2 separate regions of the Homo sapiens genome follow, and region 2 is linked to region 1. Evidence: fine-mapped expression QTL. A gene starts in region 1. The other region holds a variant in brackets. All regions are shown on one strand. Distances are between the middles of the regions.

Region 1 (10,013 bases):
GCGGGGCCTCAGGAACACGCCCCCAGCGGGAGGCGGCACTGCCCCCAACCCTATCCCCCTTCTCCCGTCCTCCGGACATCTCCCTTCCAGCAGCTCCGGGTCTCGGCTGGAAATGGGACCCTGCTCCCTCCCTGCGCCTGGCAGGCTGTGCGGGTTCTGGGGACAGGGGCCAGTGTCGCAAAGCGCCGAGGGCTTAAGGAGGGCGACAGTGCCTTCTGTTAGGACCACCGCAGAGGGCAGGGAGCGGAGTTGGGGGTTGTTGCGAGCCCTGGAGGGGAGAGGAGACGGGGAGGCGACGGGATGGGGCCAGCTGGGAAGGGGACGCGAGGCTCCAGGCTGGACTCCGCTCTCTGCCCCCTCCCGGACTCGGCTGTCTGTCCCCTCCCTCCAGACAGGGTCTGCTGACCACCGCGTGGCCTGGGAGTCTCCGGTGGCCTAGGGAAGTGAAGCGCGGCCCTGGGGAAGGCCTGGAGCAACCCATCCCCAGAACTCCCACGAGGGGGCGTCCCAACCCGTCTTCGACTGTTGGCCAAAATGCGCTGCCAATGCTGGCAGCCTTACGCAGTGCCCGCGGGGGATATGAGGCCCCCCGCGCGGCCCTGAACCCCACCGGATTCCCCGGGCCGGCCCGACCGCCCCCACCTAGTCCCTGGCCCCGCGAGTGCAACCCCCGACACTAACGGCCTTTACGCGACATCCGAGCAGCGTGTCTATCCCAAAGGCCTAGGAGCATTTGCCCGGCTCGGTCAAATCTAGCGCAAGTTTGAAGCCTGCGGCCTCGCAATTTTAGCAGCTTCGTTCCAGGCCAGGTGAGCTGGAGCGCGGATTTAGAATGCTTTCCTGCTCTTCGAGAACTTGAGGTTTTAATTTTACTTTTTACTTTTTTTTTTTTGACACGGAGCCTTGCTCTGTCGCCCAGGTTGGAGTGCAGTGGCGATCTCGGCTCACTGCAACCTCCACCTCCCGGATTCAAGCAATTCTCCTGCCTCAGCCTCCTGAGTAGCTGGGACTACAGGCTCGTGCCACCACACCTGGCTAATTTTTGTATTTTTAGTAGAGACGGGGTTTCACCATGTTGGCCAAACTGGTCTCCAACTCCTGAGCTCATGATCCTCCTACCTCAGCCTCCCAAAGTGCTGGGATTACAAGCATGAGCCATCGCGCCCGGCTGAGCTTGAGGTTTTTATGGTCTTTTCTGGGTGACTTTGCAGTGGTCATATTATTACTCCTAGGTGGGGGAAGGTAGGGACTGTCCCTCATCACTGCTGTGCCTGCAGAGGACTCCTGACACCGGGATTGTCGGCAGGGTGCAACCAAGAGCAAAAGCACCCAGAAGTGGGGGTGTGGGTCACCAAGTAAGAGAGGAGGCCCCTCCATAAGGAAGGAGCAGGTCAAGGGGCAAGGGGAGTGGTGGCTGGGGCGTTTGGCCCTGCCTGGCATGCTCAATTCTGTGTGTGCACAGCTGTCCCCAGCCATGCATGCTCTCCATGGAAGTCAGGTGCAGCCCTGTGTTCTCTCACACTGCAGTCCTTTCAGCCAGCCTGTGAACAGGGCCCTTCCCCGCCCTGTCTTCAGTTTCTCCTCTCTGAAGGGGGGTGACCACCCACCTTGAGGGTGGCCTCCCAGTGAGGTGAGCACACCAAGGGTGGGCCATTCTTTCCTGGCAGACTCACCAGGCCTGGTCCAGCCGCTACTCCCTTGTTCATGCAGTCCATGCCACCTGGTTCCTGTTTGCCACACCAAACAAACTGAACACTTCTCATGGTGGTCCCCGGGCCTAAACTGCAGAGAGTTGTTACTTCAGCTCCCATGGCTGATGGACTGCAGGTTCCACAAAGCATGGCCTTGCACCTCGGAGGCACCCAAGACCACTTAAGTGGGTTACACAAATGAAAATGAGGCTGAAAGGATGACACTGAAGCAGGCATTGAAATGCCAACTTTTTTTTTTTTTTTTTTTTGAAACGGAGTCTTGCTCTGTCGCTCAGGCTGGAGTGCAGTGGTATGATCTCCACTCACTGCAACTTCTGCCTCCTGGGTTCAAGCGATTCTCTTGCCTCAGCCTCCCGAGTATCTGGGACCACAGGCACATGCCACCATGCCCCGCTAATTGTTTGTTTTTTGTTGTTTTTTTGTTTTTGTTTTTGTTTTTTTAAACAGAGTCTCACTCTGTTGCCAGGCTGGAGTGCGGTGGTGTGATCTCAGCTTACTGCAACCTCCACCTCCCGGGTTCAAGTGATTCTCCTGCTTCAGCTTCCCAAGTAGCTGGGACTACAGGCACGTGCCACCATGCCCAGCTAATTTTTTTTTGTATTTTTAGTAGAGACAGGGTTTCACCATGTTGGCCAGGATGGTCTCTTGTGATCCGCCTGCCTCAGCCTCCCAAAGTGCTGGGATTACAGGCATGAGCCACCACGCCTGGCCTGAAATGCCTACTTTTTAAAAATGAGTCACTTTAGCGGGGAATAGTGGCTCATGTCTATATCCCAGAACTTTGTGAGTCCCAGGCAGGCAGATTGCTTGAGTCCAGGAGTTCGAGACCAGCCTGGCCAACATGGTGAAACCCTGTCTCTACAAAAAATACAAAAATTAGCAGGGCATAGTGATGCACACCGGTAGTCCCAGCTACTTGGGAGGCTGAGGCAGGAGGATCGTTTGAGCCTGGAAGGCGGAGGTTGCAGTGAGCCAAGATCACACCATTGAGCAAGACCCTGTCTCAAAATAATAAAAGTAAATAAAAGTGAGTGACTTTAAAGAAAAGATTGCCTTTCAGGCGCGGTGGCTCACGCCTGTAATCCCAGCACTTTGGGAGGCCGAGGCGGGTGGATCACCTGAGGTCAGGAGTTCAAGACCAGCCTGGCCAACACGGTGAAACCCCATCTCTACTAAAAATATAAAAAATTAGCTGGGCATGGTGGCGGGCGCCTGTAGTCCCAGCTACTCGGGAGACTGAGGCAGGAGAATGGCATGAACCTGGGAGGCGGAGCTTGCAGTGAGCCGAGATCGCGTCACTGCACTCCAGCCTGGGCGACAGAGAGAGACTCCGTCTCAAAAAAAAAAAAAAAAAAAAGAAAAGATTACGAACAGTGTAGGTTGTAAAAATTACTGCTGTCTTACTTCTCCTCGCCCTCTAGGAGTCTCTGTGGAGTCTTCTTGAATAAGCTGTGAAACATTTCCCCACCCGCTTCCCTTTCTTGGCCCAGGCTTCCTGACCACAGCCTCACCTTTGAGCAGCTCAGAGCCCTGCCTGCCAGGATGCGAGCCACTGCCTGGATCGTGGCTCTGCAGGGCCACCCATGATGGAACAGGTCGCCTGGTGAGGTGGTGAGGCCCTTCATCATTTCAGGGGGTGTACAGCAGTACTGGGTAACCCCGAAAATCAGGGATGAGACTGAAGGATCCCTTCCAGAATGTGGACACAACCCCTCCTTTGAGTCTCACCTCCTTTCCTTCTTTTTTTTGAGATGGAGTCTCGCTCTGTCACCCAGGCTGGAGTGCAATGGAACAATCTCGGCTCACTGCAACCTCCGCCTCCCGGGTTCAAGTGATTCTCCTGCTTCAGCCTCCTGAGTAGCTGGGCTTACAGGTGTGTGCCACCACACCTGGCTAATTTTTGTATTTTTAGTAGAGACAGGGTTTCACCATGTTGGTCAGGCTGCTCTCCAACTCCTGACCTCGTGATCCACCTGCCTCGGCCTCCCAAAGTGCTGGGATTACAGGCATGAGCCACTGCGCCCGGCCTCTCGCCTCCTTTCTTTCAAGTCTGAGGTGGCTAGCCTGGAGGGGTCCCCAGGGGCTTGTTGGGCACTGACGAGGGGACACCCTGGGGGCCCAGTACTCCACTCAGACACCTCCCACAGCCTTCTGACAGCATCCTTCCCACAGCTGACCAGCTAGAGGACCTCCTGACCCCTCCACTTGTCTGCTGGTGTGGAAAAGCCTGGACCCTCCCTCTTGGAGCCTCAGTTTCCCTATCTGTAAACTTCGGTCTATCCCAAGCTGAAGAACTGGCCAGTCCCTGCCATATGCCTCACTTTCCCCTGGGACACATTTTAATATCCCTTTCCTGGCCAGGTGCAATGGCTTCCCCATGTAATCCCAGCACTTTGGGAGGCCAAGGTGGGCAGATCACTTGAGGTCAGGAGTTCGAGACCAGCCTGGCCAACATGGTGAAACCCCATCTCTACTAAAAATACAAAAATTAGCCAGGCATGGTGGCGCACGTCTGTGGTCCCAGCTACTTGGGAGGCTGAGGTAGCAGAATCGTTTGAACCTGGGAGGCGGAGGTTGCAGTGAGTGGAGATCACACCACTGCACTCCTGCCTGGGAGACAGAGTGAGACTGTGTCTCAAAAAATAATAATAATAAAAAATAAAATAATATCCCTTTCCTCACAGGGGCTATTGTGTCATCTTCTAGAAGGATCCGTTGAGGCTCTGAGGGGTGGGGGAACTTGCTTGTGGGTAGGACCACCTGTCAGAGGTCAGAGGTCAGGCCACCAAGGAGACCCAGTGGGATGCGCCTTCCAAAGGTGGGGGTACGGATGGGACCCATGAAACCTGACTCCTCTCAGACTCTAGCCAAGTCTAAGACTTTGGACGGCCACCACCCAGAGGAGAAACTGAGACCCAGAGCGGCACGGGTTGGCCAGGGTCACCCAGCACCAGATAGGGACTTTGCCAGCCCCGGGGCAGGACCCTGTCTCCGGCCCTCGACCCCGCTGGGCCGTACCCTCCCCGTTCACCTCCCCCACCCGGGCCGCGGCTGCTAGGAGAGTTCAGAACAAAAGGCGGCGGGGGGCGGGGCCGAGGCGGGCCGGGGGTGGGGCGGAAGCTATAAGGGGCGGCGGCCCGGAGCGGCCCAGCAAGCCCAGCAGCCCCGGGGCGGATGGCTCCGGCCGCCTGGCTCCGCAGCGCGGCCGCGCGCGCCCTCCTGCCCCCGATGCTGCTGCTGCTGCTCCAGCCGCCGCCGCTGCTGGCCCGGGCTCTGCCGCCGGTGAGTGCCCGCCACTCGCCGGCCGCTCCTCGCTGAGGGGGCGCCGGGCACGCGGGCTGGGCCCAGCGGCGGATCCGGACCGAAGGGGGCGCCCCGGGTGGCCTCCAGCGCCCGGTACCCGAAACGCTTTCTGGTTCCCTCTAGGCGTGATAGACAGCGAGCTTGCAGTCCCTGGGGGTGTGAAGGGGAGCCGGCGCCGGCATCGTTCGGGCTGGTGGGACGGGACTCCACGCTGGACTCACGCTTGCTCCCAGCGTGGGGACCTGCCTCTCGCGCTCCAGCCGCGGGTGCTGGAGTGTGCGTTGAAGGAAGCAGCAGAGGGAGTGGTAACAGGGCCCCCTATTCATCGCAGGGACAAAGCCGAGCAGATCCCAGGCAGGTGTCAGCCTGCAGGTGTGTGGCCGCAGTTAGTACACCTCCAGGTGTGCGGTGGGATGAAGGATAAAGGGAGAAGGGAGGGCAGCGCTGTGCTGCGGGAAATGGGGTCTAAGCCTGGAGATGTCCCCCGCGGGCACCTGCCGGCAGCAGTTTTGGGAGGCTTGGAGCCAGGAGAACATGAGTATGAAATAGTATGAGTGCAGTGTGTGTGTGACTGAGAGGTGGCTGTCAGAAAGAAGCGGGGAGAGAAAGGAAAGGGAGAAAATGTGTGCTCAGGAGAGGAGAAGAAAGCCCAGGTAAGAGAGGACAGCAGAGTGAGGAGAGGAGGGACTGTCATGGAGTGTGTGTGACAGCTTGCATGTGTCCCAAAAGCTGCCCCTTCCCTGGGGCGCTTCCAGGCACCAGTCACAGGGCCTGGGGCCAGAGCCTGGGCCACTCCACTCCACAGCGGAGGCATCCAGACAGCTCGGGCAGGGAAGGGAGCAGGAGGGTGTGACAGGCAGGAGTCTCAGGACTGGCCTGGTGAGGAGGCAGGCCTGGCCAGGCTGGGACCCTCTGTCCAGCCACTCTGGCTCTGCTCAGGGCAGCCTTGTCCTGTGCTGGCTATGGGAGCAGAAAGGGATGGGATGGGTGGGGTAGAGTGAATGGGGGGCATCTCAGTCTGGAGTCTTGCCTCCTTCCCAGCCCCTCTTGGTTCCTAGGACTTGGGACAGAGTCAGGAATCACTGTGGGTAGACATTGAACCACAGGTCTGGAAATTGGAGAGATCTGGGTTTGAACCATGTGACCCTGGGTGAATCCTGCCATGCCTCAGAATCTCACCCACTCCATCTCTAATGGGAGTGCAGGTGGGAGGGGGCAATGGTGCCTACTGCTGTGTCCACTGTTGAGCAATGAGGTGATGCCAGGCTCACTAGAAACACTGTCACCTGTAGCTGCCACTTTGACGCTTGTGCATGGTCAGTGCTGGAGCTGGGGGCCAGCTTGGGGTGGGGTCTGAGCTGGACTGTGGTCTGTCACTCTGCAAACACGCAGGGAGCATGTGGGGTCACCTCTGATGTGTTTATCCCCCGGCTGCCTTCAGCAAGGCTGGGAGAGCTCTGTAAATATTTATCCAGCCCAGTTCCCAGCTTTCAGGGTTGATGGAAGCCCTGCAGTCCGATGGATGGGACGAAGCTACCGTCCCTCCTGGAGCCAGCAGCAGAGGGGTGAGAATAGGAAGATTAGGTGGAAGCTTGAGGGAGAAGATATCCCTGCTTGCCACCTGGCTGTGTGAGTTGGGCAGGTTGCTTGACCTCTCTGAGCCTGCATGGTGATGCTCCCGTCTTCCTCCATAGCCTAACAAGTGCCCTCCTCGAAGTCTTGCCTCCCACCGACATCAGAAGGCATAGCTATGATTAATTATACCCACTAGACCAACTGCAAACTGAGGCCCAGAAAGGGGCACAATGAGCCCAGCCTTTCGCAGTGTTTCCTGGCACCCTGGGGTCCTCCCTTATCTCCCCTCTATCTGGTGCCTCCCATTTTCTGGATTGCAAGTTGACCCCAGGGCGGGGTTGACTCCGAGTCTCTAAGCTCTGCCAGGACACTGGGTCAGCTGAGAAATTCCTTGAATGTGTCTGCAGCTGAGGTTTGGTGTCTGGCAGAAGAGGGTGGGGCTGAGTGAGCTAAGAACCCACCACAGGGCAGGCCAAGGGAGGCTACTGGCCAAGACAGAGGGAATGCACTGGAAGCAGAAATGCTTCTTGGGAAAGTGGGTTTTGGAGAAAAGCCAAGAGCTGGGGAGACAGGGGGAAGCCCTGGAGGTGGGAGGCATGAGCCCCAGGTCTAGGTCCAGCTCTTGCATGACTTGCTGTGTGACCCCGGGCAAAGTCCTTGAGCTCTCTGGGCTCTGTCTCATCCTCTGGGAAATGGGGGAGCTGCTTCTTCCTCAAGCTCCCCAGGGGTGTAGATGAGGCCAGTGGTGGCCTGTGTCTACCACCTCACCTCACTGAATCCTGAGAGTCCTGGGAAGGCCAAGCCCACCTGTCTCACAAGTAGCAAGCTGCTTCATGCCGTGCCTTGTAGTTAGGGCATCTGGCCCCAGGCCAGAAAGGACTTGGAAAGATGAAGTGTGGGAGGACAGTGAGGCAGAATGTGTGTCCTATCCCAGCCATGGGGAAACTGAGGCCAAGAGCTCATGGGCTCTAAAAAAATAATGGGCTCTAAAAACAACCTCACTAGCTAGAGGCCTCATTTCTAGCATCTCCTGCTCACTCAGTTTCTAAGAATTTAATGAACAAGACAGGGACAGGGAGAAGAGACCTTGATATGTGGGAGACCCTGCACAAGGCGCTTCTCTTTTCTAGGCCTGAAAGCTCCCTTCTAGCTGCAACTTCTGTTTTACCATTTAAAGCCTGAAGATTTTGTTGGGTAGCTAGAGGGGCGGTGGGTGATGGGAACTGTAGGGACTGGCAAGGGCAGATTCCCAAGCGTGGGAGGGGAGGGCCTACAGGGACAAGGAACAGGGCCAGGTAAGAGGTGCTTTTCTGTGCCAGAGGCTACAGCAGGCATTACAGAAGGATGTCATGTAGCCCTTTGCTGTGGCATCATTCCCATTTGACAGATAGGAAAGTTGAGGCTAAGAGAGGAAGGTGACTTGTCTAGAGTCTCCATGTCATAGAACTAGGCCTTCTGAACCTCAGTGGCTGGCTCTTTTTGTGACACTAAGACTGTCATGATCCAGGGGTTTGGGCATGGACTGGGTGCCTCATGAGGGAAGGACAGGAAGGGACAGTGGAAGGGGTGGGGGCATGCCCGTGGCTCTCCCTCCATGACTGTCTGCACCAGGACTCACTAGAGGGCAGAGGAGAGAAGAGATTTCTGACCATGGGCATAGCAGGGCTGGCAGGCTGGGCTCTGGGTTGTTTGGAGCTCCCAGGGGAGAGCACAGCTCTGCCCTTTCCAGGGAGGGTCTTCATACCCCTGCCAGGCTGGGGAAAGGAATCTGTTTCTCCTGTAAGTCAAGGGGGCAGTGTGGCGAGGAGGAGGAGGCAGGCCCCTCTGGCAGCCCACATCCTCCATGGGAGAACTTGGATATGTAGCATCTCCACCTGCCTGGTGGATATTGGAAGCCCAACGAACCTGCCTGCAAAATGCCCGGGAAATAGCAGGCGCTGAATAATTTGCACCTCACCAAGGTGAGGCCAGCCTGGGTCCCTCCTTCAGGGGAAGGGTAACTCAACCCCTGCAGAGCAGAGCAGAGGTAGCAGGGAGCTGGGTGGGCTGTGAGCACAGACAGTCCGCTGCCTGCCAGCTGTTGTCTGATCAAGCTGCTTAACTCCTCTGGGGCCCATTTCCTCATCCTGGAAATGAGGGTGATGATGGTGGAGTTGGTGAGAGGTTCCATCAGGGGCTAAGAGCAAGTCTGTGGAGCTGTTGCCAAGGTCCTAGCCTGCAACCAGTGCTAAGTACTTTTTTTTTTTTTTTTGAGATGGAGTCTCGCTCTGTCACCCAGGCTGGAGTGCTGTGGCACGATCTCGGCTCACTGCAAGCTCTGCCTCCCAGGTTCACGCCATTCTCCTGCCTCAGCCTCCCGAATAGCTGGGACTACAGGAGCCCGCCACCACGCCTGGCTAATTTTTTGTATTTTTAGTAGAGACGGGGTTTCACCGTGTTAGCCAGGATGGTCTCGATCTCCTGACCTCATGATCCGCCTGCCTCGGCCTCCCAAAGTGCTGGGATTACAGGCGTGAGCCACCAGGCCCGGCCAACCAGTGCTAAGTACTTATTAACAATAAGCCCAGGCCGGGCGCGGTGGCTCACGCCTGTAATCCCAGTACTTTGGGAGGCCGAGGCAGGTGGATCATGAGGTCAGGAGTTCAAGACCAGCCTGGCCAAGATGGATAAACCTCATCTCTACTAAAAATACAAAAATTAGCCAGGCGTGAGGCTGGGTGCGGTGGCGCATGCTTGTAATCCCAGCACTTTGGGAGGCCGAGGCAGGCGGATCACAAGGTCAGGAGATCGAGACCATCCTGGTAACATGGTGAAATCCCGTTTCTACTAAAAATACAAAAAAATTAGCCGGGCATGGCAGCAAGTGCCTGCAGTCCCAGCTACTCAGGAGGCTGAGTCAGGAGCATGGCATGAACCCGGAAGGCGGTGGTTGTAGTGAGCCCAGATCACACCACTGCACTCCAGCCTGGGCGATAGAGCGAGACTCTCTCTCAAAAAAAAAAAAAAAAAAATTAACCAGGCGTGGTGGCAGGCACCTGTAACCCCAGCTACTCGGGAGGCTGAGGCAGAGAATTGCTTGAACCCGGGAGGTGGAGGTTGTAGTGAGCCGAGATCGCGCCACTGCACTCCAGCCTGGGCAACAGAGTGAGACTCCATCTCAAAAAAACAAAACAAAAAACCAATAAGCCCAGAATCGGCCAGAACCCACAACCCAGTGAGACTGCGCTGTGCCAGGTAACCATGCAATAAGCAAGCTCGGAAATGGGGGGAAGCTGCTTCAGGGCCTCACGCCCTAAGTAGTTCCATAGCCTCCGTGTTCAGAAGGCCCCCCTTCATGGTGGGGTGTTCTTGATGCCTCAGCTCTGGGATCAGGAGCAGGGAGCGTTGGGACGCTGATCAGATCCCTGGGGTGTATGGAGCCTG
Region 2 (12,027 bases), 71 kb after region 1:
CTGGCATGGCTGTGTTGGCCCCAGGACCAACACAGGCTGGACGCCGAGGCGCCCTAGCCCGAGGTTCCAGAGCCTGCGGGAAGGATACGGTCATAAGGACGCCCCCGAAGAGAAACATGAAGACGAAGTCGGCCGTGCGGCCGCGGAAGGAGCCCTCTTCCAGCATGCGGCAGTAGCGGAACCTACGGCGTCGGTATAGGAAGTGCCACCAGGCGGGGCCTCAGTTTCCCCGTCCCGGCCTCTCTCCCAGCCCGGCCGGCCTGCCCTCCACCCAGCCCGTGTCCGCAGGGCGCAGGATACACGAAGAGCATGTTGAAGAAGAAGCTGAATCCCAGGGGCCCGAAGAAGAGGAAGTTGGTGACGAGCCTCCAGACCTACGGGGGACGGGCGGTCAGGTGCGGGGTGGGTGGGTCGGGCCCACAGGTGCGCGGCGCGGGGCGGCCTCACCTGGAACTTCCGGAACACAAGGTGCGGGTTGAAGTAGAGTTGAAAGGGGCTGAGGAGCTCCAGCTGCTGTGGAACCAGGGGCCAGTCAAGAGCTGCCCGGGAGCCACGCCGTAACCATGGCGACCCTCACCCCTCCCGCCAGAGGCTGTAACCAAGGCGACGTCCGGTCCGCCCGGCCGCTTACCACCGCGGCGGTGGTGAGGACACAGGCTGCGGTGTAAGCCCGCGTCACCGCCGGCACCTGCAGGAACTCGGCCGCTAGTCCCTGCCACGCCATTGAACCTTCTCAAGCACGCGTGGCCCAGCCAGCAACGCGCTCTTTAACCCGCCTCCCAGCCCCGCCTTCGGCCAATCCGCATCCGAGGCGCTGCGCGCCCCAGGCTGAAAAGAGAGCCCCTGAGCCCGACAGCCAATGGAAGGAAGAAGAGGGAAATTAGGGGCGGAAAGGGAGAGTGGGCGGGTAGAGGCTGGTGGCCAATGGGCAGGCGCCAAGGTTGAGCACGTGGCGGTTGTTGTGGCTGCGGTGGTGGCGCGGGAGAACGTGTGGCCAATGAGGAACTGGTCATTTCGCGGCTTTCTAGGAGAGGACCAGTAGCGTGGACCCACGACACCACGGGGGCGGGGCTAAGATCGTATGGGTTACAGGAGCGAAGACCCGAGCAGGCGAGGCAAAACTGGAAAGGGCGGGGCGCGTGGGCGGGGCGCGGAGTGTGGCGGCTCAGACCGTGCTGGCTCACTAACTGACGACCTAGCCACAACGTTGTCCTCGCTGCCAGCCCAAGACAGGCCCACCTAACCCACAGCAGGGAGGCATTCGGGAATGTGTCCAAACCTCCCCAAACGTCCAGGGCCCCACTCAAATGTGCCGGCCGCTGTCGGGGTTCTTCCCCGGGGGCCCAAGGAAGGAGAGGCAGGACTGCGGGATTGAGTCCAGGTGGGGCGCGAGGGTTGAGAGGCGCACCAGAGCAAGTGGACAGGCAGGAGAGGTCCTCAATATTTTGGTGGAAAATAGAAACCAACCTACCCACCTTCCTTCCCTCCTTCCCTCCCTCCCTCCCTCCCTTCCTTCCTTCCACCGTTTATTAAACAACTGTTTGCCTGACACTGTTCTAGATGTTGGGGATGTAGCATGCAATAAAAGACACTGTCTCTTAGAGTCCAGCCAGGAGGCAGTCAATACAATAAGCTAGTGCTGACACTTGATGAGAATATTGCCAAGTGAGGGGTGGGGCCACGTGGGCGTCCGCAGTGCCAGGTGGGGTGACCTGGGATACCTCTAAAGTTTGTCACTTTGCAAGCATCCCTGTGTCCATCAGGATGGTAACTGTGAAAAGCAAAACAATAAAACAAAATAAGTGTTGGCGAGGATATGGGGAAATTGGAACCCTTGGGCACCGTTGGTGGGAATATAAAATGGTGCATCCGCTGTGAAAAACAATATGATCATGACTCAAAAAATTAAAAATAGAATTACCGTATGATCCAGCAATGCTGCTTGTGGGTACACATTCAAAAGAATCAAAAGCAGGGACTTGAACAGATGTTCATACACCCATGTTCATGGCCCCATTATTCACAATGGTTCACATCAGTTCACCCACCGATGAGACAGACGAAATGTGCTGTCTACATGCAATGCAATACCATTCAACCTTAAAGGAATGAAATTCGGATACATGATGCAGCATGGATGACCCTTGAAGACATTACACCCAGTAACATAAACCAGTCACAAGGCTGGGCGCAGTGGCTCACACCTGTAATCCCAGCACTTTGGGAGGCCGAGGCGGGTGGATCACCTGAGGTCAGGAGTTCGAGACCAGCCTGGCCAACATGGTGAAACCTCGTCTCTACTAAAAATACAAAAATTAGCTGGGCGTGGTGGCGGGCACCTGTAATCCTGGCTATTCGGGAGGCTGAGGCAGGAGAATTGCTTGAATCCGGGAGATGGAGGTTGTGGTGAGCCGAGATTGCACCACTGCACTCCAGCCTGGGCAACAGAGTGAGACTCCGTCTCAAAAAAAAAAAAACCAGTCACAAAAAGACAAATACTGTATGGTTCCACTTATATGAGAGGGGATCAGGGAGTTATTGTTTAATGAGTGCAGTTCCAGTTTGGGAAAATGAAAAAGTTCTGGAGATGGATGGTGGGGAGGGTTGCATAAGAATGTTTAATACCACTGAACTGAACACTTGAAAATAGTTTGGACAAATTTTATGTTGTGTATATGTTACTAAAATTTAAAAAAAAACAACAAACCTCTGTGTTTGCTGTCAGGGTAGTGGACTGCCAGAGGAATCCTTGAGCAGGGGGAATCCTTAAGGGACAGTGATTACTTTCGGGGCTGGGAGGTGGAACCTGGAGGACAAGGAGGGGTGGGATATGGGTTTGCCTACAGACGGGACAGGGCTGAGAGGGGAGTCCAAGTGGATTCAGAGGCCTGAGCCGCAGAGTGGTTGGATGGTGGTGGTCTTTGTTGAGATGGAGGGCTCGTGGGGAGAAGGTGAGGGGCATAGAGGGTCCTGTTCTGGACTCATCGAATTTGAGGCATCTGTGTGACATCACTTGGAAAAATCTGAGTGTGGTGTTGGGGTAGGGGTTGGAGCAGACAGTCTAAATGTGGGTGCCGTCATCCAGTAGTAGATCAATGGTATTTGTAGCTTTGGGCGTGTGTGAGATGCTCAAGGGGCAAGGGTTGATGGAGAAAAGAGGCCAGGCCTGGGTAGCCTGACCTGCAGTAGCCAGGGAGGGAAGGCAGCCCCAGCTGGGGAGGCCAAGGGAGGCTGAGCCAGGAAAGGGCTTCAGGAGCCAGGCAGTGAGAATCCAGGGAGACGTGGCCCGGGAAGGGACTGTGAATTGCAGCCATGCCAAGGTTCCTGGTAACCAGGATAATGGCAGGCAGGAGGGAGAGGAAGGCACACAAATGGATGTGCCTTAACAAACAAGGGGAGTGCAGCCTTGGAGGGAAGTGTGGAAAACGAGGGATGCTCTGGACAGGGCCCTGAGGTCCCCCGAGGAGACTGGAACTGGCCAAGAGGGAGAACTGGCTGAGAAGGCTCTCAGGTGGATCCCAAGAGCGTGAGGGTCCCACAAGGGCCCTGAGAGGGGTTCCCTGGGGAGTGGGGTGAGACCAGTGCCTAATGACAGTGGGTTCAGGAGCCTTCCTCCCTGCTCTGGAGGGGACGGGGAGAGCCTGGAGTGCTGGAGGGAAGTGCATTTGCTGGAGGGATGTGAGGAGAAGGTCTGGCCTCATACAGCAGGGGTTGGACCAAGACACTGAGGGGTTGGGGGCTGGGAGCAGGGTGAGCGGACCCCCGCAGACAACCTTGGTTTTCCAGCAAAGCAGGCTAAGGTCATGTTGGAAGCATGCCAGGCAGAGCAAATCCCACCCTGGCAGCCACAGTGTGCAGCAGGGCGGGGACCCAGGGCCTCTGACGCCTGGGCGGGCGCCCGGTGGGCACAAAGGAGCCGGTGCAGGAGGTCGGGTTTCATGTCAGCGTGGGGAAGGGGAGATATTCCTCCTCCAGGCACTTAGCAGGCGCTGGCCGGCCCTCAACTCAGGGTCAGGCTGGGGCTAACAGGAGGGGATGTCATTGTCGACAGGGGCGTCTGTCTCCCCTTCGACTGGGGGCCGATAAGGCAGGCGCCCAGATTGGGGGCTGAGAAGCACATTCCTGGGAGGCCAGGAGCCTGGGGCGGGTGGGGGAGGCCAGCCAGGGCTGGGAGGGAGGACATCCAGGGAACAGCAGCTGGGTCCACTGCAGAGGCTCCCTTTCCGGAGCCCCGGGATATCCTCAGATGGGGGAACTGAGGCACGTAAGGATGCAGAACAGGGCCTGGGGCAGACCTCCATTCTTTCTTGTCCAGTCTGAGGCCCAGAACAGGCCACTCTGGAAATACTAGGTCCACTTCTCCTTGGACCCTTGAGCCCCTCCAGATAATTCTTTATAGAGGGAAGCCCTGGGCATCCCAAGTTCCCAGGGTCCTAGAGATGCAGGGTGTGCCTTACCCTAACATCAGGGTGGCAGACCTGTCGGCTGGGCCAGCCTTCTTTCTCCTGTGCTGAGGATGGTGGGTGGGTGGAGACCTGTGGTTCCTCGGCAAGGTGACAATGGGCTCTGCTCCCCATGCCACCTCCCTGGCATTGTGACGCTTCCTGCTGACTCCCAGAGGACACCTAGATCTCCTGTCCAGGCCCTCTCAGTGTCTGTAGGCAGGATAGCGCCCTCTGCATACTCTCCCCACCCAGCTTTCCCCCTCACTGGCCTCACACACTAGGAGGGGCCATCCTCAGCCCCCAAGCCTGGAGTCAGCTCTATACCCTCAGCCCCATGTTGCACTTTTTTTTTTTTTTCCTAGAGACAGGGTCTTGCTCTGTTGCCCAGACTGGAGAGTAGTGGCGTGATCACAGCTCACTGCAGCCTCAACCTCTTGGGCTCAAGTGATCCTCCCACCTCAACCTCCCAAGTAGCTGGGACAACAGGCATATGCCACCATGCCCCGCTAATTTTTTAATTTTTTTGTAGAGATGGCGTCTCACTGTGTTGCTTAGACTGGTCGCAAACCCCTGTCCTCAAGCAATCCTCCCTTGGACTCCCAAAGTGCTGGGATTACAGGCGTGAGCCACCACGCCCGGCCCCCTATGTCACACTTGATGCTCCCATGGAACTCTCTAGTCCTTTCCCTTCTCTCCTATGCCTTACCACCACCACTAACTCTTATTCAGGCCTCAGGTTCTCTCCTCTAATATTGTCCCAGCTCTCTGAACTATTCATTCTGTTAAAAAAAAAAAAAAAAAAAAGAGTAAGGCTGGGTGTGGCGGCTCACGCCTGTAGTCCTAGCACTTTGGGAGGCTGAGGAAGGCGGATTGCCTGAGCTCAGGAGTTCAACACCAGCCTGGGCAACATACAGAAACCCCATCTCTACAAAAAATACAGAAATTAGCCAGACGTGCTGGTGCATGCCTGTAGCCCCAAGTGGGAAGGGGGAGAGAGCCAGGGGGCTGAGGCTGGAGGATCGCTTGAGCCTGGGAGGTCAAGGCTGCAGTGAGCAGAGATTGCACCACTGCACTCCAGCCTGGGTGACAGAGTGAGACCCCGACTCTTAAAAATATTTTTTAAAAAATGTTTCCTGGCTGGGCACATTGGCTCATGCCTGTAATCTCAGAACCCTGGGAGGCCAAGGCCGGTGGATCACCTGAGGTCAGGAGTTGGAGACCAGCCTGGCCAACATGGTGAAACCCTGTCTCTATTAAAGATACAAAAATTAGCCAAGCAAGGTGGTATGCACCTGTAATCCCAGCTACTCAGGAGGCTGAGGCACGAGAATCACCTGAACCCCGGGGGCGGATGTTGCGGTGAGCCAAGATCGTGCCACTGCACTCCAGCCTGGGCGACAGAACAAGACTCTGTCTCAAAAATAATAAAATAATAAAATAAATATGTTTCTTAAAAGCAAAATAAATAAAATTAAAAAAATAAGAGAGGAAGAGCAGAGGGTGAAAGTGCCTCCTACTCCAGGAAGCCCTCCCTGGTCACCTTCAAAGGGACCAGAGCTCACCTACTTCTGTTAGAGTCCTGAGCACTTAATTTTTAAATATATTTTATTCTAAAGGCAGTCCATGCCTGTTGTAACTAACCACAAGAATCAAACAAACTGAACGTTTGTGTACCTGCTGGTGCAGCTGTATTTTCTTCTTGATGACACATAGTGCCTTTTGGGCCCTGAGCACTTGTCCATTGGGGGACCTCTCCCCTCTTTGAGCACGGGGCCCACCCCCTTTGAGCACAGGGACCCCTGCAATTGCTGTGAGTAGGCTTCCAGCTAGCCCCTCCCAGAAACAGCTGTGTCCCCCTTGGCCCTTCCTGTCTGGGCCACAGGCTATTTTTAGCACTGAATCCGGAACCCACATAGCAGCAGCTGCT[T/C]GTGGCCGGAGCGCAAGAACAACAAACCATCCAGGTGGGTTGTGTCAGGCTGCAGAGGGAGCGGCCTGGGCCTGGCCCTCTGAACCTGGTAGCAGAATCTGGACTTTCCAGGAATAAGCTGGTCTCTGGGTGGGATGGGGAGGGAGGAAGCAGAATGGGGCAGAGGATGGGTTGCACTAGCTAGGCCAGGATAGGGGAAGGGCCTGTGCAAAGGCCCTGAGGTAACTGGGGGAGAGGAAGGGAGCAGAGGAGAGAAGGTGAAGGAGGCAAGGAAGAAGAGTTGCTTGTGACGGGAGGGAGAAGCGGGGCCAGGCCAGGCAGAGGTGTGTCGGCCGTGGTCTCTGTCCTAATCAGATGAGCCGGGGAGGAGAGCGGTGGCCTGCAGTGGCTTGCATTAACAGCGAGGGAGTGGAAGGGTTAGGATGGCTGAAGCCACAGGCCTTAGTGAATGCTTGGTAGTGGGGGTGAAGGTAGGAGGGGTCCTGGCCTACCCAGCTTGGGGGACAGTGAGCCCCCACTGGGTGGAGACATGGGTGAATGGCCAGTAAGGGAGGGAGACCACTCGTTGAGTCAGGCAGGTGAGCTTGGGGTGCTGTGGGGTGGAAGCCCTCCCTGGCCTCTAGCCCAGTCCTCCCAGCTCCTTCCCTTCCGTGGCCCTGGTCATTCCTGCTTCATGCAGAAGGGCTGCAGTTGTCCACACAATGGCCCCTCTAGGCCTGGTTTCTGCTGCGGAGCTGGCACAGGCAGGGGCTTGGTAAACAGGGAAAAACAGGGAAACTTGTGAAGACAGAGACCTGGACTCCAGGGCTGGAAATGCAGCCTCGGGGCTGGCATTGTGACCTGAGCACTCCCTTCCCTCTCTGGCTCTGTGTCCCTCTCTGTGAGATGCGGGTCAGAAGGGTCCATGTGTAGAGTCTCTTTCAGCTCCAAGGTTGTACTCTGATCTATAATGGGGGTATCAGAGATTTCTGGGTGGAAGCCCCTTCCTGTAACAAACACAGCTGGCCTCCCCATCCAAGGCCCATCTCTGCTATGAATAAGTGAATGCTTATGAGCAAGAATGCACCAACAGAGGAAGCTGGAGGGCCCCTGCCAGTCCTCTCTGCCGGATCTGTTCCTCGCTGTCTCCTCTCAGCCAGGAGCCTTCATGGGCCTATGGTCAGGAACAGCCAGAGAGGCCTGCAGGGCTGGGGAGGGAGTCGCTGTGGGTGCCTTTTTCCTGCAGGAGCTCAGCTTCTGGCCAGGGGAGGAGACACTGAATCCCATACCAAGCAGGGAGTGGAAATGCACTGGTGAGTGGTCCAGGGCAGCCGTGGGGCAGGAGAGCTCCTGATGAGGACAGGAGGAGGAGGGGATGTGCTAGGCAGGGACAAAGGCTTAAGCAAAAGTGGGGAGGCAGGAATGGGCCCGTGTGCTGCTCATGGACTAGGCAAGGACCTGTGAAGTGCGGGAGATAATAGCTGCTCAGTGATCTATAGCCAGACTGCACCATGGCTTTTATTAAACTCACCGAACCCTCATCACCACCTGATGAAGTAGGTTACTATTACGGATGAGAAAATAGGCTCAGAGAGGTTCAGTAAACTGCCTGAGGACACACAGCTAAAGAGGCACAAAATCAGCAGTCCTGGCTTTGCCACCATAACGGGTGATGGAAGGGACCCATGCGGAGGAAGTGAGCTATCCCTGACCCCATCACTGGGGCACAGGGGAGTGAGGGACATCACCAACCAGCTAATGCTGTGCAGCCCCAGACCCTTTTCCAGCTCCGGTTTGGAGGTGAGAACTTTTTGCAGCCTCTGGGCTCCCAGGGAGCGTCTCCAACATGAGACTCCACTCCTGAGCTGCCTCCCTGCTGTCTGGGCCTCGTTTTACTGTCTCTGACCCTTCATGGCTGATGAAACTGTCTCCATTCAGCCCTCAGCTGCGGGACCTGCCTGAGCCTGTGTCCTGACTGTCATGACCCAGAGCAATTGCCAGGAATTCCCACTTCCTGCTGTGGCCGCTGCCAGAATGTCAAAGCCACCTCCGGCCAAGCACCCCAGAGCTCCAGAGCATCTGGTGGGGGCTTCCCCCTCCCCTGCCTCAGCTATTTTCAAGCTCAGCACTGTGGGCGGTGTAGGGGGAGAAGCAGATTATCTGTTTGGCAGAGTCAGCCATATGGCAGGGCCAGGGATATGAGTTCACAGAGACAAAACCTGAGACAGCTCTGTCTTTGACTTCGAAAAAGCCTGGCGGAGTGGCGTGTGGCTGTAGTCCCAGCGGAGGCAGGAGGATTGCTTGAGCCCGGGAGTTCGAGGCCAGCCTGGGCAACAGCGTGACACTCCATCTCTACGAAAACAAAACTAATCTTTAGGGACTGGGGCCACCACTCTGGAAGGCCTTGCCCAGGACTAGTGACTCAGAGCCATGGGTCTGGTGGAAGGAGAGGTTCAGAAAGGCCTGGGTTCAGCCAGGTGCGGTGGCTCACGCCTGTAATCCCAGCACTTTGGGAGGCTGAGGCTGACAGATCACCTGAGGTCGGGAGTTCTAGAGCAACCTGACTAACATGGAGAAACCCGTCTCTACTAAAAATACAAAATTAGCTGGGCATGGTGGTGCATGCCTGTAGTTCCAACTCTTTGGGGGGCTGAGGCAGGAGAATCGCTTGAACACGGGAGGCGGAGGTTGCGGTGAGCTGAGATCGTGCCACTGGACTCCAGCCTGGACAACAAGAGCGAAACTCCGTCTCAAAAAAAAAAAAAGAAAGAAAGGCCTTGGTTCACCCCACCTCCACTGGCTTGCATCCACTGATAGCCCCACCAAGCAGCCAGGCCCTGCTCCCATGAGTGAGGGGCATGCTCCCCGTGCCAGGTGATTGTCCAGCCGCTGGGATGGGAGGCTCCTAACGGTGGGCTGAGATGACAACCCAGGTGACCCATCCTTTCACAGTGACACCACCAGGGCCCCTGCCTCCACGTCCTCCTCCAAACACTCACCCAGCCCTCCAATGCCCTTCACTTTCATGAGACTGGGGGGCCTCTTTAAGAAAATGAATGCAAAACAGCCGGGCGCGGTGGCTCATGCCTGTAATCCCAACACTTTGGGAGGCCGAGGTGGGCGGATCACCTGAGGTCAGTAGTTCAAGACCAGCCTGGCCAACACGGCGAAACCCTATCTGTACTAAAAATACAAAAATTACGAAAATTAGTGGGGTGTGGTGGCAGGCTCCTGTAATAATCCCAGCTACTCGGGAGGCTGAGGCGGGAGAATTGCTTGAACACAGGTGGCGGAGGTTGCAGTGAGCTGAGATCGTGCCATTGCACTCCAGCCTGGGCAACAAGAGTGAAACTCTGTCTCAAAAAAAAAAAAAAATGCAAAACAAATGCAAGATTAGGTCGCAAAGTGAGTATTTGAAATGCAAACAAATGACCAATTTGGTTGCCCCGTTGGAGAGAAGAGAAAACCGAGGCTGCGGCACGGGGAGGGCTTCCTTGGTGAGGGCAGACGCAGGAAGGCACACCTGTCCCACTGCTTGCGCATCCCAAACCTGCAGAAGGTGGTCCAGCCACAGCGGACTGGCTGCTGTGGCATCTCCCCACCCCCTTCCAAGAGGCCCTGCTTAGAGGCCCCCTCCGCCCCAAGGAATGCAGGCATCAGTGCTTCAGACTCTGGCCTAACCACCGTCCCCACCTCCCAGGCCCCCACCCTTTCCCTCCAGATGTGGGCACAGCTGTATTTTTAGAACAGCCGACCACGAGGACATTCTTTCCTTCTAATTAAGATGGCTTCAAATCTCTCATCTGCAATCAGCCCCATTGTTCAGTCCTCAAACATCAAAGGGTGGCCAGGAGGGGCCGCCTCAGCTGGTTGTGGGGTTGGGGCTTGTTTTCTTTCTTTCTTTGTCTTTGAGCCATTACGCTGGAAATGAGACCCAGAACCGGAGTGGATGCCAGCTCTGAGGAGGAAGAAGCAGGCCTTTGGGTAGTTTGCAGGACCTGCCTGTCTGCACCCCTGCACCCTGTCGCCAACCTTGAGTGAGGTTGTCCAGCTAGGCTGCAGCCCCCCAGTGCACCCATCTGAGGTTAGGGTCTGTCTGGGACAACTGCGGGATCAAAAAAGGCCCTGTGTTGGCTGGGCGCGGTGGCTCTCGCGTGTAATCGCAGTGCTTTGGGAGGCCAAGGTGGGCAGATAACCTGAGGTCAGGAGTTCGAGACTAGCCTGGCCAACATGGTGAAACCTCGTCTCTACTAAAAATACAAAAATTAGCCGGGCATGTTGGCTCACGCCTGTAATCCCAGCAAGTCGGGAGGCTGAGGCAGGAGAATCGCTTGAACCCCGGGGGCAGAGGCTTCAGTGATCATCAGGCCTCCTGACCTCCTCCCTCTCCCCCGCAGGAGGCCCCTGGTGTAGGACAGAGATGCCCACCCACGTGGGGGCAATAGGAAAGGCTGCAGGGAGGAATGGCCTCTGGGTAGCCTTGAACCGTGTTACAGTCCTCCGTGCTACAGCGCTCTCAAGCCCACTGACAGATGAGGAAACCGAGGCTCAGAGAGGCCAACAGGCTGGCCTAGAGCTGCTCAGCCCACTAGCAGTGAGGTGCTCAGGAACGCTAGGTCCCCGCAGTCAGCCGTGCCCTGCACCCCTCACTCATCCCCAGGGATGGACCGGGCCTGCTGCTGCCTGAGCCTTGGCTCCAGGTAGGAGGCACCTGTCCCACCCCGCATGGAGCAGAGAGGAGAGCCACGCAGGCGGGCCGAGGCCGGATGGGACTGGCGTCAGGCTTCTCAGCTCCCCAGGGTCCTGGCCCACCCGGCCCCGCGCGGCTGGATGTGAGGACAGGGCAAGTGAAATCGCACCGGGGCGGGTGGCGCAGGGCAGGAGGCTGCAACTCGGTACAACGGCCAGGACTGGAGCGCCCAAGAGCTGAGGGGCAGGGAGGGCAAGGCAGAAAGGGGAGCCTCCCCAGATGAAGTGCCCCCTACCCAGCGGCGCCTGGGCGCAGGCCTCCTTTGTGTCACCGCCACCACTGAACCTTCGCGAGTCGGCGGCAATCGCTGGTGCTGGGTTCCGCAGAGCCCGGGCTCTGTCGCCCCCTCGCGGCCGGAGCCGGTCTGGGCGGCGTCGGGGAAATCCCGAAAAGCCTGCGGGGAAGAAGCTGAACGGGGGCGGGACCCGGGCGCGGTGAGCCCATTCATTCCCCGAGGGCTGGGAAAGTCTCCACCAGGAGACGGAATCCCTGGGATGTCCCCAACGCTGGGCCCTGCCTCCCTAGGCCCAGGTAACAGGCATTTTCTAAGACAGTTCAGGGACACGGAGGCACCCCGCTGGAAGAGCCGGTGGGCTCCCGGGTGGGGTACGGGCCGGGTGGGAGTCAGTATCACCAGCGGGCTTCGCTGGATTGATTGTTTTTATTTATTTATTTTTAAATATTTATTTATTTATTTTTGAGACGGAGTTTCGCTCTGTCGCTCACGCTGGAGTTCAGTGGCACGATCTTGGCTCACTGCAACCTCTGCCTCCCCGGCTCAAGCAAGCCTCCTGCCTCAGCCTCCCCAGTAGCTAAGATTACAGGCGCCCACCACACACCCGGCTAATCTTTGTATTTTTGGTAGAGATGAGGTTTCACCAGGCAGACCTCAGTTGATCCGCCTGCCTCAGCCTTCCGCAGTGCTG

The links. PIP is the estimated chance that this variant, and not a neighbour inherited with it, causes the effect.
Region 2: its variant is fine-mapped to the expression of MMP11 in whole blood (TOPMed, PIP above 0.99).

What each region holds. Positions count from the first base shown.
Region 1 is chr22:23,767,985-23,777,997 of GRCh38, forward strand. MMP11 (matrix metallopeptidase 11) reads left to right here and starts at 4,865. Exons shown (of 8, transcript NM_005940.5): 1 at 4,865-4,994. The coding sequence starts at 4,887. LOC107985577 (a long non-coding RNA gene) reads left to right here and starts at 242. Exons shown (of 3, transcript XR_007068022.1): 1 at 242-809; 2 at 3,203-3,323; 3 at 3,885-4,393.
Region 2 is chr22:23,838,264-23,850,290 of GRCh38, forward strand. DERL3 (derlin 3) reads right to left here and starts at 743. Exons shown (of 7, transcript NM_001002862.3): 1 at 632-743; 2 at 448-513; 3 at 301-374; 4 at 89-182. The coding sequence starts at 724. RefSeq lists a silencer at 666-968 and enhancers at 3,947-4,504, 6,119-6,612, 9,515-10,272, 10,273-11,028, 11,029-11,784. The variant T/C (reference allele first, on the strand shown) is at 6,373.